Regions from separate parts of the Homo sapiens genome. Here region 2 is linked to region 1. The links come from fine-mapping of genetic effects on gene expression. A gene starts in region 1. The other region holds a variant in brackets. All regions are shown on one strand. Distances are between the middles of the regions. Region 1 holds the start of KLK1 (kallikrein 1). Region 2 holds the start of SNORD88C (small nucleolar RNA, C/D box 88C).

What was found. PIP is the estimated chance that this variant, and not a neighbour inherited with it, causes the effect.
Region 2: its variant is the best candidate, but not a certain one, in a credible set for the expression of KLK1 in sun-exposed skin (GTEx, PIP 0.87).

The regions. Positions count from the first base shown.
Region 1 is chr19:50,821,388-50,825,897 of GRCh38, forward strand. KLK1 (kallikrein 1) reads right to left here and starts at 2,400. Exons shown (of 5, transcript NM_002257.4): 1 at 2,316-2,400; 2 at 325-484. The coding sequence starts at 2,361. KLK15 (kallikrein related peptidase 15) reads right to left here. Exons shown (of 6, transcript NM_017509.4): 6 at 3,902-4,510. The coding sequence ends at 4,409.
Region 2 is chr19:50,801,779-50,806,035 of GRCh38, forward strand. SNORD88C (small nucleolar RNA, C/D box 88C) reads right to left here and starts at 643; the gene lies at 547-643. It also overlaps the pseudogene C19orf48P and the pseudogene TMEM277P. RefSeq lists enhancers at 243-743, 2,896-3,145 and a silencer at 3,396-3,445. The variant T/C (reference allele first, on the strand shown) is at 1,913.

The sequences.
Region 1 (4,510 bases):
CAGTGACAGAGATGCCGCAGAGAGACTCAGAGACAGACAGAGACAGGGGAGATGCAGAGACAAGGAGACAGAGGAGAGAGAGGAAGACAGAGACCAGAACACAGTCACACAGAGACACAAGCAGAACCAGATCCCAAGAGACCCAGGCAGCCTTGGAGAGGGGTGTCCAGCCCAGCTCTGCCCTGCCAGGCGACCTGCGCCAGAGCCTTCCTCTCTGCCTCAGCCCCCCAGTCTTGCCTGAGGTTATCCAAGGGGAATGCCACTGGCCTGTCAATCCTGTGGCAGCATAGATGCCCTCCTCCCAGACCCCAGGCCCCTACTCACTCGCTGATGCAATGAGCAGCTGTGAGCACCCACTGGCGGTGCACCAGGATGCCCCCACACTGGAAAGTGCTGAAATGGTACAGAGCCGCCTGCCAGGGCTGGGAATGCTGCTCACACTCCCAGCCTCCCACAATCCGGGACTGAATCGGGGGCGCAGCACCTGCAGAGGCGGTGCTGGGTCAGGAAGGGCAGGGTTGGCAGGAGAGGCCAGGGACAAGGCTAGGAGAGGGAGCTGGGCTGTGGGTCTGAAGGGACATTGCGGGTAGAGGACCAGGGCTGGAGGTTGGGGACATGGGCAAGGGGTGTTGGGAAGGGGTGGGACTCTGGACTGTTCCCTGGGCTTTTGGAGTGGTGGCTGGACCTGGTGGGGAGATTTTGTGCTCTGACAGTAGAGCAGCCTCCAGGGATCAGGGTAGGAGACAGGAGACAGTGTCTGGAGCAGACACTGCATCTGGGCGTCAGGTCATTTGGGGTCTGGGGCTGGGGGATGGGAGGTGGTGGGTTAGGGGAGTGGAAAGGGATTCTGGAAACCAGGGATCAAGGCGCCAAGGGTGGGACAGGATCAGAGGCTCACTGAGGAAGAATCTGGAGGGCTAAGGGGCTCCTAGGCTAGGGAAACAGGACCTGGGTTGGGCTTTTGAGGTTCAGGAAAGGATGCAGCTTTAGGGAACCAGGTCTGAGAGGTAAAGAAGAGCATCTGGACTGAAGAGTTTGGGGGTGACTTGGGGTCCCTACATTGGGGTTGGAAGGGGCCAGCTTGGCTGGGACAGTTAGATTTCAGGGCTTCCTGGTTAAAGGGTAAAAGAAAGGGCTATGGTTAAGGCTAGAGGTGGGCTTCCGAGAGGTTTTGGGGTCCTTCCTGTGAACCAGGAATGGCAATCTGAGGGGAGGTTGGGGCCCTGAGAACACAGTTGCGGTCAGGACTGGGACGGGGCTCAGGAGGAGGGAGGCGTGAGTGGCAGTCCTTCTCGGACAGGGTGAAGGATGGGATCTTCGTTTCTCATGGGGATGGGGTTCATGGTCTGAGGGTACTGGAAGGATATGGGGTCCTCTTGGAGGCAATCCTAGGAAGAGGATTGGAGAAGTGGTGAGAACAGGCGCCAAGCAGCTGTGGGAATGCAATGCAGGACCCACTTGACGTGAGGTTGTAGAATCACATACTGACTTGGGGGAGGCCAGGGCAGAAGCGCTGGCTGAGAAGGCATTCAGGATCCTTGGGGTGGGGTTCCAGAAAACCAGAGCTGTGTAGGAACAATTCAGGCAGAGAAGGGCTGGGGCCTGGGGCGGGATGGAACTTCCCCAAGGAAAGGAGCATGTGGTGGGAGGGTGTGGTGTTTTTCCTGGGAGAGCTGGGGGTGCTGGGTGGGAAGGGACATTTGCAGACCCCCCCCCATACCAGATGGGGGATCCCACATGCCAGTTTGGGAAGCAGGGTTTTCTGGTGAAATTTGGGGGACCCTGGAAGGACTGGGGAGACCAGATGTCAGGGTCTGGAGGACACAGTTGAGAGCGGACAGCTGGATGGAAAAAGTCACTGGAGTGTGGTGGGATTTGTAGACTCAGGAGCCAAATAGGTGGCCGCAGGGAACTAGGGGGCAGGAGGGGATGATCAGAGTCCTGTGGGGTGGGGGAAGCCCATGGGAGGGTTGGGGTCCTCCAGAGAGAGACAGAGATGGCCCAGAATCTGCCCCTTTGGTAAAGCGGTGGGACAGGGCGTTGGCTAGGGAAGAGGAGAAAGTACTGAGGCTTCCTGGGAGGAGCAGGAATCTGGTGTGGGAGTGAGCACTATGACAACATGGAGGAGCGGGGGTGGAAGTTTAGGGTGGGGCCGCGCAAGATAGATAAGAGCCGGGGCACCCCGGACTAGGATAGACTGTGGGCCAGAGGGATGAGGGTGGGGTGTTGGAGGGGAAGGTCTTATCGGGGGGGGATGTGAGGCCAGCAAGAGAATCAGGGCCCGTTCCCCCTCCCACATCCCCCCACTGTCTCACCAGTCCCCCCCAGGGACAGGGCGAGGCACAGAACCAGGAACCACATGGTGACAGAGGTGTCCAGGGGCCAGCAGGTGGAGGAACTGGGGAACCTCCCTGGGGAGGCTTTTAAAAGCCCTTATCCCCTCAGAGCCCCACCCCTGCCCTGCTGGCACCCAGATGTTGGCCAAGGCCCTTCCCCTGTTGCCTGGGGGCTGGACAATTGCCCCCCCCCCCTCCGATCCCCAGAGCTGTAGACGGGGAGGGAGAACCAGCACCTGTTCTGCAGGCCCTGGATCACGCTGGACGCATTCCTGGGGTTGAAGCCAGGTGGGGCAGGGCCTGTGGCTCTGGGGCTTTGCTCTGGGGAGCAGCCAGTGAGGCAAGGGGGGACTGAGGGGAAGCAGAAACAGGAAGACGGAGGAATCAGTGACCCCTGGTACAAAGCCCCATATACCTCAGTCTCAATTAAGGCCCTGCACCCCCAGACCTGGTGCCCTCAAACACCAGCAGTTAGGGCTCTGATTCCCTGCACCACTCGGAGCCAAGATACTAGCATCTCAGCTGCCAGTTCCCCCTGAAATATAAGCCTTGGCCTTCAGAATGCCCTGGTTCTTGCACTCCCAGACCCAGGACCTAGGTCCCCAAAGCTACTGTTCCTTTCATAATAAAATTTTGGGGTACACATCACCACATTCCTAGTGCCTCCAGATCCAGGAATGTGAAGTTTCAGGGGTCTCCCAGGGTAAGTTCTTTAGCATTACAAAATCCAGTGTCCCTCCCAAACAATGCTGGGGTCTCAATGAGCCTCCCACTTCTTGCTCCCAGTTATGGGTGCTCAACGTCCTGTCCTCCAAAGTCCCAGAGATCTGGACAACCTTCCCTCCCAGGTCAAGATCAGGCTAACCACAGATTCCAATGACCCTTCCCCCCCACCACCAGTACAATATTTAGGTCTCACGAGCCAGGTTCATGTACTTCAACATTCAGCGACCTTGAACATCACATTTTGTGGTCTCTGAAGATAATTAGGAACTAGATTCCTGCAGCCTCAATGGTAAACCCATAGGCTTCCAACAGGTTGTCTTGGCTTTTTGGTAAAATCAAAGCAGCTCAGAGTTCCAGCCTCTGCTGTATATCAGGGACCTGGCTAAGGAAAGGACAGTATTTGCCTTTTTGCCATGGCTACCAGGAAGCCCAGAACTAAATCTTTTTTTTTTTTTTTTTTTTTCTGAGATGGAGTCTTGCTCTGTCACCAGGCTGGAGTGCAGTGGCGCGATCTCGGCTCACTGCAACTCCTGCCTCCTAAGTTCAAGCGATCCTCCCACATCACCCTCCCAAGTAGCTAGGATTACAGTCGTGTGCCACCACGCCCGGCTAAATTTTTTTAGTATTTTTAGTAGAGATGGGGTTTCACCATGTTGGCCAGGCTGGTCTTGCACTCCTGACCTCAAGTGAGCCGCCCGCCTTGGCCTCCCAAAGTGCTGGGATTACAGGTGTGAGCCACCATGCCCGGCCCAGAACTAAACCTTAAAGAAAAAGCCATTCTTGGTAATCTAGTGTCTGTTAGGTCCTTTAACTGGGATCCAGAGATAGAGGGTATTTACTCAGTGCCAGACACGATTTTAATCAGTTCAGACGAATCATCTCATTTAATCCTCACAACAGCCCTTTGAAGTCAGCAATAAGATGGTCTCATTTTACAGATAAGGAAACCAAGGCGAAGTGAGATTGGGCCTCTTGTTCAAGATCACACGGGTGGTCATGTGTGTTGAATGAATGGAGCCCTGCTTCAAGCCGCTTCTCCTCACCTAGGGATCGGGGTGGTGGGTGAAAAGGAACAGTGTACAGTGTCTCGGGGTTTCTCTTTGACCCCAGAAAAAAGTCACAGAAATTCCTACAGAGCAACTTGGATCAGCGCTTTGTTATCTTGGCATTAAACAGGTGACCTTGAGCGCCAGCTTTGTCCTCAGGTGGGACAAGTCCTTGGCTAACATCTGGGCCTTGGACAGGGTCTTGGGGGATGGCTCCGTTCTGTTCCATGTCAGGCGGGGCTGCTGGCCAGCTGTGGGGGCTTCTGCTCAGTCAGGGGCACAGGAGATAGGCTAGAATAGTCAGTTCCTCTTCATGGTTTCCCTGATCCACTCCAAGTAGTGGCAGACTTTGGTATAGACACCAGGCTTGGTGGTGTTGTCACAAGGGACGTCACCCCAGGA
Region 2 (4,257 bases), 20 kb before region 1:
TACAGGCACCCGCCACCACGCCCAGCTATTTTTTGTATTTTTAGTAGAGATGGGGGTTTTCACCATGTTGGTCAGGCTGGTCTTGAACCCCTGACCTCATGATCCACCTGCCTCGGCTTCCCAAAGTGCTGGGATTACAGGCGTGAGCCACTGTGCCCGGCCTAATTTTTTGTATTTTTAGTAGAGACGGGGTTTCACCATGTTGGCTGGGCTGGTCTCGAACTCCTGACCTCAGGTAATCCACCTACCTCAGCCTCCCAAAGTGCTGGAATTACAGGTGTAAGCCACTGCGCCCAGCCTGAGATGGTTTTTGTATGTAAACACTGAGTACAATCATTGGCACATCAATCAGTTTCTAGAGGTACGGTATGAAGTCAACCTAGACAGTGAGATATTTTAAACCCAGGTGAGTGAAGGAGCAGGAGCAAGGGTTCTTACCTGGATAGGCATGGTGGGTGGTCCTAAGCTTGAAGCTGCACCTGTAACACAGAAAGACACAGTGAGAGTGGGGGAGGAAACAGTCTGCAAGTCCACAAGCCATTAAAACTGGGGCCCCTCAGACCCCCAGGTGTCAAAGGTCCTGGGGTGCACTGTGTCCTCAGGGGTGATCAGAGCCCAGTGCTGGACATCATGGGAGCCCCAGCCCCTCTGCAACCAGGTCCTGAGGCCACTTACCTTCAGGGACAGAGGCCAAGCTAACAGAGCTTAAAGAGTAGGAAACGCGGCCGGGCACGGTGGCTCACGCCTGCAACCTCAGCACTTTGGGAAGCCGAGGTGGGCAGATCACGAAGTCAGGAGTTCGAGACCAGCCTGGCCAATATGGTGAAACCCTGTCTCTATTGAAAATACAAAATTAGCCAGGCGTGGTGGAGAATGCCTGTAATCTCAGCTACTCGGGAGGCTGAGGCAGGAGAATTGCTTGAACCCAGGAGGCGGAGGTTGCAGTGAGCCAAGTCGTGCCACTGCACTCCAACCTGGGCGACAGAGCAAGACTTGTCTCAAAAAGAGTAGGAAATGCAAAACTCATCCAGAAGGTAGGAATGACCAGTTTTGCTCATGGAGACACCAAGATGCCCCAACCTCCCCAGTGTCACAGGTCCTCGGGGGACTGTCCTCATGGGATGGGTAGGACCCCAAATGCACTACATGAAGATGTCCCCGGTGTTCATCCCCCACTGTTTGCAGGTTTCTTTAGCACTGCCTACATCTGCACATAACCCATAAACAGAGAAAGCTGCCAAGACACAAATCCCCTGGAAGAACTTATTGAGAGAAGGAAGAAGAAACAAAGCCAACTTGTAAATAATAATGAGGAGAGACCCTCGACTGAGTCAGGTTTGAACATATCAGCTGTAAAAGACATTTCGAAGATGACTGAGGAACAACAGGCACAAAGCAGATTGTTAAATTGCAGTATTAAGGGTGACAATGCTAATAACATTAAGTAGAAAAATGTTACTGTAGGTACACAAGTACACTATTTTGAGTGAAATATGAACCTTTCTTTCAAGTAAGAGTCTGCTCTGTTGCCCAGGCTGGAGTGCAGTGGCGCGATCTTGGCTAAAGGCATTCTCCCACTTCCTTCATAAGTAGCTGGGACTACAGGCCCGCACCACCACGCTTGGCTCACTTTACTATTTTTTTGTAGAAATGGGGTTTTGCCATGTTGCTCAGGCTGGTCTTGAACTCCTAGGGTCAAGCGACCCACCCACCTCGGCCTCCCAAAGTGCTGGGATAACAGGCATGAGCCACCGCGTTCGGCCATGAAACTTACTTTCAAAACACTTAAGCACAAGGTTTTTGAATATGGCAAGATGGTGCAAATGTTAACTTTTCCCATTTGTTGGTAGATTTTAATATTGCCAAAGGACGACGTGCCAACGATGAATGCATGAAAAAATACTTTCACTTG[T/C]GACATGAACAAACTCAACGATTTTCTAGGTGGTTGCCTGAAGGAGGTAAGTCAAGTAGAGATCCTTGCTGGGGTCGTGGTGGGGGAGATAGGAAATGGGCTAGCTGCTTCCAGGCTGAGCCTCCTCGGCAGGGGCATGGGCCCCGCTCAAGTCAGGAAACCGATGTTCAAGACCTTAAAGGACCTAAGCCAAAAACTAACGTTAACAAAACCCTCTCACGTGGCATGAACGGTCAGAACGACTCCCGCAGGTAAGCAAAGGCCTCGTTTGCTTCCTTCTATATCCATTCCTACACGACTCTCAAACCCGGCAATTCACCTAGAAACTTCACTCTCACTTCTTTGGTAACTCGATACCCTATCTGTGCCCCCATGGAACCCCCCAAAACCCTCTCCCGTCCCCCAGTCTTTGTTCTAGGTTGCACAAAAATGCCAGCCATCCAGAATTTTAAAAGCAAGAGAGAATTCCTAAGGAAGCACCTGTAGGTAGCACGAAAATGGAAACACTCGGAAAGAACTCAATGTCGCCTCCCAGCCCGCCCACCCCTCTCCCCCAACCAAATCGACAAGATGGCGGAGGCCCGCGGCGTGCGGGCAGCACAAGGGGCGAGCTCCGCCGCGGGGCAGACGGAGGGGGGTCCGCCCCAGCATCCCCGCTCGCGCCAGCTATAGGAGTCGCAAACTCCCAGGCGGCCCAAACAGCCACCACCATCCCCGCAGAAAACTCCCAGGCTCGCCCCGGAGGGCGCTCTCTGGGTCCTTGCAAACGCCCTGACCCTTTCCACGCGACTACATGGCCGCTCCCGTCGCAGCCTCGAACCCTTCAGGACACGTGCGTCTTTCCACACAGCCGGAAAAAGTAATAAACTTAAGAACCTCACCCCAGCATTTCTCTCTCCGAAGCGGGCGCGGGTTGCAGCACGCGCCATTTTATAGTGCGCGCCGCTCGCAAGGCCGGTCCTCGGCGCCAGCCCGCGCTCCGCCCGAGGCGTCCAATACACACGCCTGTTTGGGAAACCCCATTTCATGCTTAGGGAAAGGAATACTGCCTGCTTCCGCTAGAATCTTCCTGAACAAGCGAGGAGACGCTGTCTCTGGGGCTGACAAAAAGGGGCAAGGATATGATGGAAACGATTGTCTTGTCCCCTGCGTCCGGCAATTCTGAAGACAGCATCAAAGATGGGCCGTGAAGAGAAAGGACCCCGAGGGCGGCCCGACACGAGAGAGAATCCGCTGGGACTATTTGCGCGGCAGGGGCTTGAGCTGAGTGAGGCTGCAGAGGCGGGGCCCAAGCCGAAGGGCCGGACCCAAATTAAGTCCCAGCCACTGGGCTGGAGGCGGGGCCAGTGTGGAGATTGACAGGGGGCCGTCCTGGGAAAGCGCCCACGTGGCGCAGAATTAGAGGCGGAGCCTACACGGTGACGCAAGGGCCGGAAGGAGGGACCCTGTGTCTGGAGAAGCGGGAGATGGGGGCCTGGACCCCTGGGTCTGAGGGAGGAGGGGCTGGGGTCGTGATTCCCGTGTTTGGGAGAAAAGGGGGTTGGGAGCTGGGACTCCTGGGGCCGAGGGAGGCCTTTGGGGCTCCCACTCAGTTTTGACGGTCTAAGGCCTGGGGGCCTGGATTCTTGGTAGGGTTGGAGATCTCAGGAGTGTCTTTCCACTGATAGGATTATACATTCTTTCCACTTATATGATTATTTTGAAAATTAAAAAATGAAACTTCTCTACTCCAAACTCACTTTCTAGGAGTTTCACTGTCAACAATTTGGTGTGGACTTTATGTTTTCTTTTTTCAGATGGAGTCTTGCTCTGTCGCCCAGGCTGGAGTCCAGTGGTGTGATCTCAGCTCACTTCATCCTCCGCTTCCCGAGTTCAAGCAATTCTCGTGCCTCAGCCTCCCGAGTAGCTGGGATTACAGGTGCCTATCACCACGCCCAGCTAATTTTTTTGCATGTTTAGTAGAGACAGGGTTTCACCATATTGGCCAGGCTGGTCTCGAACTCCTGACCTCAAGTGATCTGCCTGCCTCAAACCTCCCAAAGCACTGGGATTACAGGTGTGAGCCACCACGCCTGGCCTGGTATGGACTTTATATATATATACACACACACACACACACACACACACACACATATTATGGATAAAGATACTTTTTTCCACTCTAATCTGTCCCATAAGTTGTTTCCCCACATGAGTACGTACAGAATTATCTCATTCACTGAACAATGGCAACGGGCTCCTTTGTGTGAATTGAACACGCTTTGTTTAGCGGGTCCCTGGTCATTTGGGTTGTTTTCTTCTTTCTAGTGAGGAGATTCCTTTCATGAACCTTGTGGTCTGGAGTA